Homo sapiens: one gene and its partner. The protein of the gene in region 1 interacts with the protein of each later gene in a pairwise test. Each region holds a gene or a part of one and is shown on either strand. Other genes may lie near its edges. The genes, in order: ARF4 and APBA2.

Region 1 (8,101 bases):
CAGTCGTCTTCAAAAAGATACATCAGGAAATGTAAACAGCCCAACATTTTAATTAAAAAAAATCTGCTTGGACAATTTTTTTTCTCTTTTCATAAAAGTAATACATGATTTTTGGGTAAAAAAAAATTCCTATCAGTAGAGGAGCAAGGAAAATAATTATTCATACAGTATTCATACAAGCACATATAAAACCTATTAAAAGAAAACTTGGATTACCTACATGCTTTTGTATAATTTAAAATGATATAGTCATGATTTGTCTTGGATTTCTTCAATTCTTTTCTTTGTCAGTATTTTTGGATTTACTTTTTTTTTTTTTTTTTTTTTTTGAGACTGAGTTCCGCTCTTGTTGTCCAGGCTGTAGTGCAATGGCACGATCTCGGCTCACTGCAACATCCGCCTCCTGGGTTCAAGCGAGTCTCCTGCCTCAGCCTCCAGAGTATCTGGGATTATAGGCATATGCCACCACATCCAGCTAGTTTCTGTATTTTTAGTAGAGACGGGATTTTACCATGTTGGCCAGGCTGGTCTCAAACTCCTGGCCTCAGGTGATTCGCCCACCTCAGCCTCCCAAAGTACTGTGATTACAGGCATGAGCCACAGCGCCAGGCCTTACCTTGTTTTTAAATGACAATCTGAGGTCCAGTTGGACCTCCGGTGATAACTGGCAGGTACCATAGTTTTGTGTGTGTGCGTGTGTGTGTGTGTTTCTTAATCAGCGTCTCAGTTTCAATTCTGACTTGGCTTAATCATATTTGAACTTAAAGGTTAATTTTGGTTAACTTAAAAATCTGATGCTTTCAAGAGACAGCTTTGTTGGACCATTTAAAGATCCAGTTGTTTTTTGCCACCCCCCTTTGTTTTATATCTTGTTACTAAAGATGCCAAACTTTAATGTAGCTCCTTTTTATGTATTTTTTAGAATTATGTTTTCTGATTTTTTTGATAATGTTCCATGCTCAAAAAATAAAACACTTGTATAACAGTTGGTTTTTATTATTATGCTCATGAATGAGGGCTTGATGTGGGCTGATCACACTGACTAGTAGTTGGGAAGGAATAAACCTGTATCCGAGTACGAAGTGGGGAACAGGGTTTTACAGGACAAAGGAATAAAAGGCTTGAGTCTCCAAAAAGAACTTAAAGTTATTCTTGGTAGGGTACAGAGTAGAAAGGGTTGTTAAGAGGGTAGAAGGAATCAGAATTGCCTGTAGCCTTCGCTTCTGTTTTGGACTAACTGATAAAAGATAGACTTACTTGCATAGGAATGTAAATTAGATAAGTGAGATAATTTCAGCTCTTTTTTAACTTACTAGCATTGCTTTTATGTGCTAAGTCATGCTTTGATTTAAATATTAAGAAAGTGTCCTTGCTTAAATCAATACTTGATTGAATCGATACAAAAATCTGTGATAAGATAAACCCAGGCGGCCAGATATGATATCCTAAGAACAATGATAGATTCAATGAGGTTATTAGATGTTGATCTTTCATTTATGAGGGCTTTAGCAAACACTGCAGAATATTCAGGTTTTGAGAGATTCATACTTACAAGCATTTAATTTGTTCTTCACTGTCACCCTACAAGGAGGTATAGCCTCTTGTTCTAGTGTGGATTTTTTTTCACAAGCAAACACATTCCTCCCTACTTGTACTTCTGCCTCAACTGAATCATTTTAAGAATTTAGGCCGGACACAGTGGTTCACATCTGTAATCACAGCACTTTGAGAGGCTGAGGCGGGCAGATCACCCGAGGTCAGGAGTTCAAGACCAGCCTGGCCAACATGGTGAAACCCCGTCTCTACTAAAAATACAAATTAGCTGGGGTGTGGTGGCACGCACCTGTAATCCCAGTTACTCCGGAAGCTGAGGTAGGAGAATCGCTTGAACCTGGGAGATGGAGGTTGCAGTGAGCTGATATTGCACCATTGCACTTCAGCCTGGGTGACAGAGTGATACTCTGTCTCAAAAAAAAAAAAAAAGAATTTAGATATTACTTATATTGTAGATGAATGTGATAGGGTCTTTTATTATTATACTTTAAGTTCTAGGGTACATGTGCACAATGTGCAGGTTTGTTACATATGTATACATGTGCCATGTTGGTGTGCTGCACCCATTAACTCGTTGTTTACATTAGGTAATGTGATAGGGCCATTTTTATAACAGGTTAATCAGACTTTGGTTTTCATTTTGGCACATTTAATGTTGAAATGGATTTAAGCAGGGGTAAAATTGGCTTCATCTTCCTTTATTATCATTATAAGGTCACTAGGACATAGTTACATTAAGTTCATTAGAACATAGTTATACCACTAGGACATACTTATACCAGTGTATTTTTTACCCCTTAGCATCAAAATCTGTTACCCAAATTTTACTCTGTAAATAAGAGAAAATATTTTTACAAATCTTAAGAATTCTTTATTCACTTACATGTTGTCTGAATCAACTTCTAATTTGTGTTTTTAAAAATGGTAGTATGGCTGGGCACGGTGGCTCACGCTTGTAATCCCAGCACATTGGCAGGCCCAGGCTGGCAGATCACTTGAGGCCAGGAGTTTGAGACCAGCCTGGCCAACATGGTGAAACCCCGTCTCTACTAAAAATACAAAAATTAGCCGGGCGTGGTGGTGGGCGCCTGTAGTCCCAGCTACTTGGGAGGCTGAGGCAGGAGAATTGCTCGAACCCGGGAGGTGGAGGTTACAGTGAGCTGAGATCATGCCACTTCACTCCCGCCTGGACAACAGAGCGAGAATACGTCCCCCCGCTCCCCTGCCCCTCCACCCCCCAAAAAATGCTGGTAGTTCATAGAATTTAATTGGAAGAGATCTTAGATGATCTGATCCAGTCCCTTTATTTATGGCTAATTTCTCTGGTCTCAGTGTCCTAAAGTCACTCAACTAGTTTGTCGCAAAGCTAGAGATTAGAGCCTAAGTCAGCTACATACTTGTTACCTTTTACTAGTACATGCTGTCTCTCTTGGTCTAGAAAGCAGAATGGAAAGGCTTTCTGTAGGAAGTGTTGCCTTTGGGAATCAGAAATAAGGTCATTTCATTTCTAACTCATTTAGAAGTTGTCTTGAACAGTCAACTTCTAGTTTTGAACTATAAATTTATTGTAAAATTATTTCTTGGAGTGTGCTTTTGGTCTGGATTTTAAATCTATAATGTCTTCTTCTAGTTGGATTGGATGCTGCTGGCAAGACAACCATTCTGTATAAACTGAAGTTAGGGGAGATAGTCACCACCATTCCTACCATTGGTAAGAAAGTTTACAGATGACTTTATATCATGATATGTTGTAAAGTGAAATATATACAGTCTAGTTTTGAGATTGTCTTTTTGTTAAGCATGTTGATTATCTTAGAAGTACTTTTAAAACAGGCCGGGTGTGGTGGCTCATGCCTGTAATCCCAGCACTTTGGGAGGCCGAGGCGGGTGGATTGCTTGAGCCCAGGAGTTCAAGACCAGCCTGCATAACATAATGAGGCCTTGTCTCTGTTGATGTTTAGGCTTAAATATATTTTTTAAAAATAAAAAGAAGTACTTTAAAAACACTATTCTAAGAAAATTCCACAATAAAAGGTTTTATTTTCTTAATGACGCTGCACAGCGGTCATTTTTGTTTTTCTTTGTAGGTTTTAATGTGGAAACAGTAGAATATAAGAACATTTGTTTCACAGTATGGGATGTTGGTGGTCAAGATAGAATTAGGCCTCTCTGGAAGCATTACTTCCAGAATACCCAGGTAAGGGATACTGTATGTTTTTATAACTTTTCTTTGTGGGTTTCATGCTCTAAAGTTTTTATTAGTATCTAGTATTTACTTGGATATTGGTGTTTACTATGAGTTGGCATTTGTCTTATCACCACTTCCACATTCTTCAGTGGACTCTCACTTAGGCCTTGAAGGCTAACTTATATAGGGTGGAAGAGTTGTAAAGCAATTGCGGTAAGTGTTTGGAAGATGGGGTGGGTGCTGGTGTAGTTCACAAGAATGAATTAGGTCTCTTATCCGTAGTTCTTTGCTTTCCATCTTAGTTTAGAAAGTAAGGTCTGTATAAACTGTCATTGTAGTTTCTGATGAATGTAAGACAATTGATAGTCCTTTGTTTAGCCCAGTTACTTGTTTACTTTATTAAATACAGTAAAGTCAGTTCGCTGCATTGATTTGTAAGATATTTTTATATTGCCACATAGTATGTATATATAATACTGGCATGGAAGAGACTTTAGTGATCCTGTAGAACAGGAGTTCTCAAATTTGGGGGTGGCACGTAAGAATCACATGGGGACCTTTGAAAATCCCAAGACCTGGATCATCCCCTAGATGACTTGAATCAGAATATCAGGGGATATAATCCAGGTACAGTAGTGTTTCTTAAACTTTAATATGCATATCAATCACCTGGGTATTTGTTAAAAATACACATTGAGTCCATAGGTCCTAGCTAAGGCCTGAGATTCTGTATTTCTAGCAAGTTCTCGGGTTGTGCTGATACTACTGGTCTGGTATCTTACAGCACAGCACTATTGACATTTTGGGCTGGGTTATTCTTTGTTGTTGGGTATGGGGAGGGCTCTCTATGCATTGTAGGTTGTTTAGTGGCATCCTTGTCCTCTACCCACTAGATGGCAATAGCAGCTGCCCTCAAGTAGCAGCCAAAAATCTCTCCACACCTGCAAAATATCCCCTGGGGGCAAAATTGCTCCCTGCTGAGAACCACTGTTCTAATCTAACTCTCTTACATATGAGGAAACTGAAACTTGGAATGACTTACCCAAGATGGGAGAGTTTGTTCTCACTCTACCTTTGTTTAACCTGGTCCCACCTCGATTGTGTTTTCTACCACCCAAGGAATTTCTTGTCAGTTTTTTTTTATTACTTAATAATTTTTTTTAAGTGTGATATCACTGCCACTTTATATTTTTAAGACTTGCAATGTCATCTTGTTATCAGCCTCTTAAAACATTGCATACAAGTGGGGTTTATTGCCATCAGGTGGCAGTGAATACCCTAGGTGAGTGGCTGGGACAACCAGGTTTACATAGTATGTCATATTAAATAAGTGGTATACTTTTTTATTTAAAAACGAGAATGTTTAGGCCAGGCACGGTGGCTCATGCCTGTGATCCCAGCACTTTGGGAGGCTGAGGCGGGCGGATCACGAGGTCAGGAGTTCAAGACCAGCCTGACCAACACAGTGAAACCCCGTCTTTACTAAAAATACAAAAATTAGCCGGGCGTGGTGGCGCGCACCTGTGATCCCAGCTACTCAGGAGGCTGAGGCAGGAGAATCACTTGAACCCGGGAGGTGGAGGTTGTGATGAGCCGAGATCACACCATTGCACTCCAGCATGGGTGACAAAGCGAGACTCTGTCTCAAAAAAAAAAAAATAGTAGAATGTTTATGGTCATCAATATAGCTGTGACTAGAAAAGATACTTGATACAGAGGCACATGCTTTAAAAAGCTTCCTTATGGAAAATGTTAAATACAAGGTGAACATTCCTTATCCGAAATTCTTGGGACCAGAAACCACTGTTTCTGATCTCAGAATTTTGGGGGTTTTGGAATATTTGCATTGTACCCAGTTGAGCATTCTAAATCCAGAAATCCAAAATCCGATATACTCCAGGGAGTTTTTTCTTTGTTATGTTGGTGCTCGGGAAGTTTTGGATTTGGATTTTTGGATTAAGGAAACTCAATCTGTACACCTACAAATAGAATAGCATAATAAACTCACATGTATGTATTATGCAGCTTCAGTTACTAGGATATAAGCAGTGCTGTGTTGTTTCATACTCATCTCTAATGTGCTCTACCCTCTAGACAGTTTGTTTATTTTTTTTGAGATGGAGTTCTCGTCCTGTCACCCAGGCTATGGCGCAATCTTGGCTCACTGCAACCTCTGCCTCCTGGGTTCAAGCGATTCTCCTGCCTCAGCCTCCCAAGTAGCTGGGACTTCAGGCATGCGCCACCACACCTGGCTAATTTTGTATTTTTAGTAGAGACGGGGTTTCACCATGTTAGCCAGGCTGGTCTCGATCTCCTGACCTCATGTGATCCACCTGCCTGGGCTTCCCAAAGTGCTGGGATTACAGGCATGAGCTACTGCGCTTGGCCAATATATTTTGAAAGAGTTAGATATGAAGTAAAACCTTGCTAATCCTTAAGCCTAATAATTCTTGACCAAGGGTAACCCTGGGTTTATCCCTAGATTTGTTTAGAATGCTTTGTAATTTACTTTGCATTCTTAATTTGAAATTAGACCCAATTCTGGCCTCTTTGGACCATCTGAGAATTAAAAGTCTAAGTACTGCTTCCTAGGGAGTTCATGCTAGCTGGGGAAAGCTTTATGTGTTACCTGATAGAATCAAAGCTAAGCTCTTAGCTTGCATTCCCAGCATTACTGATCAGTTCTCCTAGCTATAAAATTTAAAAGAAACTATAGCTTTAACCATGTTTCTAACTTATACTAACAAACCATGGCACAGTGTGTAGTAAATTCCTCTTATAATTCCAACTAATTTGCCATTGTAAATAAGTAAATATTTGGCTTTTCAAATAATTTCATAGCAGCTGGGCTTATCTGTAGAATCCTAGCTTTTCTTCACTCTTGATTCTAGGCTGTTCCAGGAAGAAAATAATTAGGGATTAATACCTAAAATAATTCTCCTTCTCAATAATGTCACTTTGGGACTGATAGCATTATTTGCATTTTAAAACAAAGGCTGGGTGCAGTGGCTTATGCCTGTACTCTCAGCACTTTGGGAGGCTGAGGTGGGAGGATCGCTTGAGCTCAGGAGTTTGAGGCCAGCCTGGGGAACATAGTGAGACCCTGTCTTTACATTTAAAAAAAAAAAAAAAGAATAAAAATGGGAAGTTAGCAGTCAAAATAAAATTAGGTCCCTTTTAGGGGCATTACCTCTTGTAAAGGGTAGGTTTCAGGACCGGGTGCTATGGCTTATGCCTGAAACACCAACACTTTGGGAGGCCATGATACGAGGATCACTTGAGGCCAGTCCAGGCAACAGAGTGAAACCCTGTCTCTACAAAAAAAAATTAAAAAAAAATTACCTGGGCATGGTGGCATACTCCTGTAGTCCCAGCTACTTGAGAGGCTGAGGTGGGAGGATCACCTGAGCACAGGAGTTGGAGGCTGAAGTGAGCTACAGTTGCGCCTCTGTACTCCAGCCTGGGGGACAAAAGGAGACCTTGCCTCTTTTTTGAAAAAAAGAAGAAACAAAAAAATGGAAGGTTTGGTTCTAAAAAGGAGTAGCTTTTGAAATATGGAAAGGAGGAGACATATTTGCTAAATAAATGCCCATGATAAGCCAAGAACAATGATCTTTTATATCTCTGTGATTGCATTTAATCTTTAACAAGCTTATGAAGTTAGTATTTTTATTTTATTTAGACGAGGCATAGTCAAGGATTAGATAATATATATAACAAGTAGTATAAGATTTGAATTTGAGTCTGTCTTCCCACCACACTATATTGGCTCCCAAAGCATCAAACATTATTTTTTGTTTTTGAGATGGGGTCTCACTCTGTTACCCAGGCTAGAGTGCAGTGGCATGATCATGGCTCACTGTAGCTTCAGTCAACCTCCTGGGCTCATGTGATCCTCCCTTCTCAGCTTCCTAAGTAGCTAGGACTATAGACATGTGCCACCATGCCCTACTAAAATTTTAATTTTTTTCGTAGAGACAGGGTCTTACTCTGCCCAGGGTGATCTTGAACTCCTGACTTCATGTGATCCTCCCACCCCAGCCTCCCAAAGTGGTGGGATTAGAGGTGCCATGCCAGCCAAAAGTTTTCTCAAAGGATAGGATATTTAAAGTGATGGTTTTCCAGGTGGTATAGATGCAGTGTAAAATAAAATTTAAAAATTAAGTTATGGTTTCCAACAGAGATAAAGGAAATGGACTTACAATTTGCTAAAACAAAGGAAATTGTCATTTAATGGATGTAAAATAAGTGTTAGATGCTCCTGGAGAGCCCAGTACTGTGGTAATCCTGAGAGGTAAACAGAAAATGATGTAGGATGGGGCTGGGCGCGGTGGCTCACACCTGTAATCCCAGCACTTT
Region 2 (6,943 bases), on another chromosome or scaffold:
AATCGAGCATCATAGCCATTTTGAAGTGCAGAGTTCTGTGGCAGTCAGTCCATCTGCATGTCAGGCAGCCATGGCCACTGCGCTCTCCTGCACGTCTTCCTCCTCCCCAACAGGAACTTTGTCCCCACTAAGCACCACCGCCCATTTCTCCTTCCCAGCCCCTGGCGGCCCCCCACTTCTACTTTGTCTCTGTGATTCTGACTACCCCAGGTACCTCATATCAGTGGCATCACACAGTGTTTGTTCGTGTGCCTGGCCTGTTTCATGCAGCATAGTGTCCCCGAGGTCTGTCCGTGTTGTAGCACACTTCAGACTCTCCCTCCTCTCCAGGGCTGAGTACTGTTTCCCTGCAGGCCTAGAGCACATTCTGTTTCTCCGCTAGTCCGTGCTGTCACCCTCGGCTGTTGTGAACACTGCTGCTGTGAACACGGGTGTGCACGGCGCCTGTTTTCCATTCTGTCCAGTCTCGTGGTCACAGGCGCTCCCAGGCCCTCCTGTCCATCTGTTTGGCGTCACTTTTAGGCTGGAATGGAAGCCCCCACCGCTGCACTCCAGCCTGGGTGACAGAATGAGACCCTGTCTCCAACAAAACCAGAACCAGTATATTTGGCACAAAATGCCCTTACGTCACTTGGCGGGGGGGGGATGTAGGAATAAAGTGACTCTTCCCTGTCGATGTAGACCATTTGGGCATCCGGCAAACAGAGCCTTCCCTTGACAGAACAGATGCCCCACCTTTCTGGTGGCCAGGGGACAGGCTGCCTCTCCTTTCCCGCCCGCCCATCAGCTAAGTGCCTGTCTTCCAGGATGGTAACCAGGCTGTGCCGTAGGAGGCCAGGTGGCAGTGGCCTTGGGCTGTGTCACCAGTCTCTAGCCTGACCACAAAGGGAGCGGCCCTGGGGGAGGTGCAGCTGGGGGACAGGTTCCACCGTGGGAGTCAGAAAACTTGGTGGTTCCCCACACACCATGGCATTAACTCTCTTGTTTTAAAGAAACATACTGCATATCATAAGGATCTCTGTCTGTGAGTCAGCGAATTGCACGTGCACGTATTCATCATGTGGCGCTTTTCCCTCTGCATGTCCCATCTTTGGGGACGTGGTGGAGCGCCTGTCGGGTGTGGCGGGAACACGTGTGCTGACCTGGCCATGTCTGCTTAGATCTGCAGCCTCATGAGAGGGGGCATTGCTGAGCGAGGGGGCGTCCGTGTGGGCCACCGCATCATCGAGATCAACGGGCAGAGCGTGGTGGCCACAGCCCACGAGAAGATAGTCCAAGCTCTGTCCAACTCGGTCGGAGAGGTAAGGAGGGACTTTGAGTGTGCCTCTGCATGCCGGTTCCCACGTGCTCCCGCCTGCCCTCCATGAGCCTCCCCCGCTCCAGAGGACACAGGGCATCTGAAGGTCAGCCAGGCTGTGTCTCCCATCGGGGCTGCTGTGACAAGGGTGAATGGAGCGGCAGGTGATGCGGAGCCATCCCGGTCTGGCTCTAACTGAGCAACCGGGAGGGCACAGGCTGCTGGGGGTGCTCCCTGGACACTACTTTTGGGACTGGACCTGTATGTCCAGTTCAGAAGCTCTGCAGGGCACACAGCTCTGGCCACCCTGGCAGGCTTGCCTCTCTGCCCTTGCTGGCCATCCCCTCCCACAGCCAGGCTGCTTGCCCTGTCCCACTTCACTGGCTGAACCCCCCACAGTCCAGTTCTTTCTGGCATCGCTTCCACGGCAGTGTGAGGATGGTGTGGGGGAGGTGCAGGTTTTCCTCCAGAGCTCACAAGGAGGCAGGATCATTGGGAGGGGGGATGGTGCTGGGGAGGTGGCACATACACCGGGGGAGGCCTGGCCAGTGCGCAGCGGGTGTGCGTGTGTGTGTGTGTGTAGTGTGAGCGAGTGTGGGTGTGTGCATGTGGATGTGTGAGAGCATGGGTGTGTGTGGGATGTGATGTATGAGTGTGGGTAAGTGTGGGTAGGTGTGGGAAATGAGTGTGTGCGTGCACGTGGGTGTATAGGGGTGCATGAGTGGATGGGTGTGGGTGTGTGGCTGTGTGAATGTACCTGAGTGTGCGTGTGGAGGAGTGTGTGTGTGTGGGTGAGTGTATGCGGATGTACGTGTGTGTGTGAGAGCATGGGGTGTGTAGGAGTGCGAGTGTGGGTGTGTGCAGGGGTGTGTGGCTGTGGGTGTGTGTGAGCATGGGGTGTCAAGCATGAGTGTGTATGTGTGCACGGCTGTGGCTGTGGGTCTGTGAGTGGGTGTGAGGCATGGGGTGTGAGGAGAGTGTGAGTGGGTGTGTCTGTGTGTGTGTAGGGGTGTGTGAAGGGGTGTTCAGCACAAAGGGGCTGCAGGCTCTCTGGGAAGCGTGGTGGCCGCACGAGGCGGGAGGCTGAGAGCTGAGGAGCCCGGCCTACAGAGGGGCCCGCTGGGGACCGGGCAGGGAATTTGGGTCTGGGGACAGCAGCAGCAGGCCGGGCCGTCTGTGGTGCTCCCCCTGGTGGCTCTGTGAGGCTGAGTGCGTGGCGACCATCCTTGCAGCCTGTGGGTGGGCGGGTGGGTGGAGGGGTCTCTAGTTCCTGTTCTTCGGATGAGGTCTCCAGGAGCCACATCGGGACACTGGTATTTTGTGCACTGCAGGGTCGGCTGGGAGCTGGGAGGCCTGTTTTCCCTGGACTGGTGGGGGCAGGGGTCTGGCTCAGGAGGAGGAGGGGCCAGGCGGACACCAGCCTCCCTTTGATGGCTTCAAAGAAAGGAAAAGCCAGTGTTCCCAAGTAGATGCTTTGAAGCGGCCGCCCCCACGGCCAGCAGCCCCACACCTGTGAGGAAATCCACCCGTGGAGGAGCGGGCGGGAGAACGGGGAAGAGGCAGGAGGCGGCCGGGGCGTTGGAATCCTTTCAGCCCTGCCGAGGTTATGGTGCCTGTTTCCAGCAGCTCTGAGCCCACGCGGAACATGAGTCGCTGATAAACAAGGCTTGCAGTTGCGAGGGGCCTCGGGGTGGGTTTCTGGTTGAGGAACGCCGGGGAATGGCTGATGGAGGAAGCCCCTGCCGGGAGCAGGAGCAGCGGAAACCTACATCGGCCACACAGATCCCGGCGGGGGAGGGAGGGCAACGCTCAGAAGCAGAGCTGCGCGATGTGCCTTTCTGGGCTGCTCAGCCCAGGGCCCGAGACCTGCTTGCCTGAGGAGGGGCAGATGCACGGCGGCTGCACCCCGTGGGGAGGCCAGCATGCCTGCGGCAGCTGACCCTGGCAGTGCGAGGGCCCCCCATCCGGAGGCCGCAGCCTAGCACAGTCCCGGGCAGGACAGGGGAGAGCGTCGTGCTCAGGAGAGGAGAAGTGGGCAGTAGAGCTCCCTTTCCGTTCTTGAAGCAGACGTTTAGAGTCTGCTCCTTCCCAGTGTCCGCAAAGAAGGATTACAAGGCGCGCCACCCACACGGTTGGTCTCCCTGGGGCGGTCTGAGGCCTTGCTTGTATACCCAGCTCCTTTGGAGTCAGGGCTCGAGGCCAGGCCCCAAAGGGTCATTTGCTCACCGATCCCCAAAGGCTAAGAACTTGAGGTGCCCTGGGCCCCAGCGAGCCTGTTCCCAGCCCCCAGCACACTTTCCTGGCCCGTGTGTGTTTTGTAAGAAGGGGTGTAGGCCGGGCGCGGTGGCTCAGGCCTGTAATCCCAGCACTTTGGGAGGCCGAGGCGGGCGTATCACGAGGTCGGGAGATTGAGACCATCCTGGCTAACACGGTGAAACCCCGTCTCTGCTAAAAAATACAAAAAAATTCGCTGGGTGTGGTGGCGGGCACCTGTAATCCCAGCTACTGAGGAGGCTGAGGCAGGAGAATGACATGAACCCGGGGGGCAGAGCTTGCAGTGAGCCGAGATTGCACCACTGCACTCCAGCCTGGGCGACAGAGCAAGACTCCGTCTCAAAAAAAAAAAAAAAAGAAGGGGTGCGTGTGTCTTCCCCCATTGAGCTCCTCCTCAGTGAAGCAGAGTGCATCCCTCGCAGTTTCTGCCGAGGCCTGGCCACCCCCAGCCAGCCCCAGTGGATGGGCAAACTGTTGTCACCACTAGAAGTCCAATTTCTCACCCCTCGGGTGTCAGCTGGACTGGAAGCAAAACTAGCACTCAACTGTATTGACTCCTCTGGAGCCAGGGGTGGGGACCTGGAGTCTCAGTCTGCTGCATCTGGAAGGCATCATAAGTGTCCCCAGGCCTGGGCAGGCTGGCCTTCCTCCTTCACTCTAGGAGATGGGCATTTGAAGCAGAACTCTGGGGGGTTTGCCTCTGTCCTTTGCTTTCACCTGATTGTGGGAGGGGAGGTGGGAGGGCAGCGGCTCAGCCTCCTGTTTCTGTCCGCAGATCCACATGAAGACCATGCCCGCCGCCATGTTCAGGCTCCTCACGGGTCAGGAGACCCCGCTGTACATCTAGGCCACCCCAGCCTGGCCACGCAGCCAGGACACCGGGCAGGGCCGCCCGGGCCCAGAGGAGCTGGGAGCCGGGCCGCAGACTTGACCCCGACGCCACAGCCCAGCCACGGACGCTGGCTCCCCAAAGGGTGTGCCCTCACCACCCACTTGATTTTTTTCATTTTGCCAAAAAGGGGTATGTCTTTATCAAAGGAGAGTCACAGAACAAATGTTTGTTTGTAAAGCGTTCCAAGTATTTTGCCACGTTCTGGACTGTCTTCTCCCTGCACAAGCCAGGGTGTGTCTCGGTAGCTGTGCGTGGTGTGGAGTGTGTGTCTTTCCTCCCTGAAGCTGTGCGGAGCGAACTGGCGCCTCCGAGGGACGCGGCTCCCGGGGCAGGGCAGCCGTCACCCCTGCCTCCCGCCCCCTTGGCTGGGACGTCTGGGGTCCTGTGGGGCCCCCACAATGGTCCCAAACAGCTGCCTCTGCCACTGACTGCAGGGACACGGGCAGCCTGGCTCCCAGGACACGACTTGTAATGAAAGTTTGGGGACATGTGATTGATTGATTGATTGTAAATAAAGGATGATGGCCACAACATGAAAACTCCATATTTATTTAGATGCTATTATTACTGTTTGGACTTTTATTTTGGCAGGCTTTTTTCCAGACTCTAGGGTTTTCCAATGTGACTAATGACCACACCTGCCTCTCCCGTCGTCTCTTCTGGGCACCCTCCCACCCGGCTGCATACCCGGGCAGGGCTCCCACAGAGACAAGGAGGGCACAGGTGTCTGCCCCCTCTTTAAAATCGATCTACACACATCCACGCACATGCGACCCCGAGGAAACGAAACCCACTCTAGAAAACGCGACCTTGGCCGCACCTAAAGCAGCCAGCCGTGAGTGCAGACCCCTTGGCCAGCGTGGCGCAGTGGCCCTGAGCAGTAGTGGCATGTGTGTAGATCAAGTCGGATCTAGTCCAGCTCGGTTCATTAGCGATCCATGTAATCTGACGTCATCTTGTCTCGAAGTCTCTTTTTTTGGCCCAGGCCTTGAAGAATACACTGTGACTTAAGAAGCCTTACCACGCAGTAACTAAAGCTTTAGGATGACTGTATTCGAGGAGTGCCGTGTGTTGCATGCAGCTACCCGTAGGAAGACTTCGCGCATATCACTAATAAACCTGAAGTCGTGATGAAAAGCCGTGTGTGTGACTGGTCTGTTACCTCAGCGGCGGGTGCCCGCCTGTCCTTTCATTCACAGCTTGGATGCGGCTCTGCAAATTCACTATGCGGTGGCAGCCACAGCTGCTCTGTGCTCCTCCTGGATCCTGAACCTTGGAAGCTGTCACTAATGAGTTCGGTGGGTGGGTGCTCTGGGCACCAGGTGTCAGCTGGGCAACGCCCCGCTGCAACTGGAGGTGCCAGCAATGCTACCAGGTCACGGGGTCAGCGCCAGGTTCTTGACCCACTTGCCCCAGCAGGGAGACACGTCCGCAGAGCACTCACTAATGGAATGAGGGAGCCAGGGAGCCTTGGGCTTCTTCAGATTTCAACGTAAATGGCCCCTGGGAAAGGTGTGCATGCGTGTGCGTGTGTAAAAGCCGGACCGCCCATCCCAGCACCCTGTCTGCACCTGTGGGTCCTTTGCAGCCTGTCTAGAGTGACAATTCTGGCAGCTCTGCCAGCACTTACCTTTCTTCATGGCCACCGTTCTGGTGTCACCTGGTGTGGGAAAGCCAGGTAGCAAGCACGGGCTTTGTTCAGAGGCGGTGGCCTGGGGTCCAGCTGGGTTAGGCTGTGGGTCTTGGATGGGCAGGAGCCCTCCTCTCTGGCCTGCCCACAGCAGCGTGAGCTCCTTGCTGTGGGCACTGACCACCTTCACGGCCCAGGATTCTTGGGGAACTGCAGAGTAAGGAGAAGACTTACTCTCACCTAGCCGCCCAGAGGGTGTGGGCCAAGGGCTTGCTCCAGCATGACCTTGGCCATCAGGGGCATATAAAAGAGACGGCCTTTCAAGGCGCACACCAGCTTTGTGCCTCCCTCTTCCCAGAAAGTATACATGGTAGAGGCAAAGAAAGCTGTTCCATAGGAGACTGTCACAGAGAGCTGCGTATATGCCGAAATGTATATGCACTCGCTCTGAATGAATATGCTTAAGAATGATGAGTTCATGTCCTTTGTAGGGACATGGATGAAATTGGAAACCATCATTCTCAGTAAACTATCGCAAGAACAAAAAACCAAACACCGCATATTCTCACTCATAGGTGGGAATTGAACAATGAGATCACATGGACACAGGAAGGGGAATATCACACTCTGGGGACTGTGGTGGGGTCGGGGGAGGGGGGAGGGATAGCATTGGGAGATATACCTAATGCTAGATGACACGTTAGTGGGTGCAGCGCACCAGCATGGCACATGTATACATATGTAACTAACCTGCACAATGTGCACATGTACCCTAAAACTTAGAGTATAATAAAAAAAAAATTAAAAATAAATAAATAAATAAATAAAATAAAATAAAATAATAAAATAA

What was found.
Region 2: the proteins of ARF4 (region 1) and APBA2 interact in a two-hybrid assay, tested with the Homo sapiens proteins (one study listed by BioGRID).

Annotation. Positions count from the first base shown.
Region 1 is NC_000003.12:57,579,548-57,587,648, reverse strand, and holds part of ARF4 (ADP-ribosylation factor 4), read left to right. Parts: intron 1-3,184; coding exon 3,185-3,265; intron 3,266-3,641; coding exon 3,642-3,751; intron 3,752-8,101.
Region 2 is NC_000015.10:29,112,716-29,119,658, forward strand, and holds the end of APBA2 (amyloid-beta A4 precursor protein-binding family A member 2), read left to right. Parts: intron 1-1,160; coding exon 1,161-1,301; intron 1,302-4,346; coding exon 4,347-4,418; 3' UTR 4,419-5,600; downstream 5,601-6,943. UniProt on the Homo sapiens protein: Putative function in synaptic vesicle exocytosis by binding to STXBP1, an essential component of the synaptic vesicle exocytotic machinery. May modulate processing of the amyloid-beta precursor protein (APP) and hence formation of APP-beta.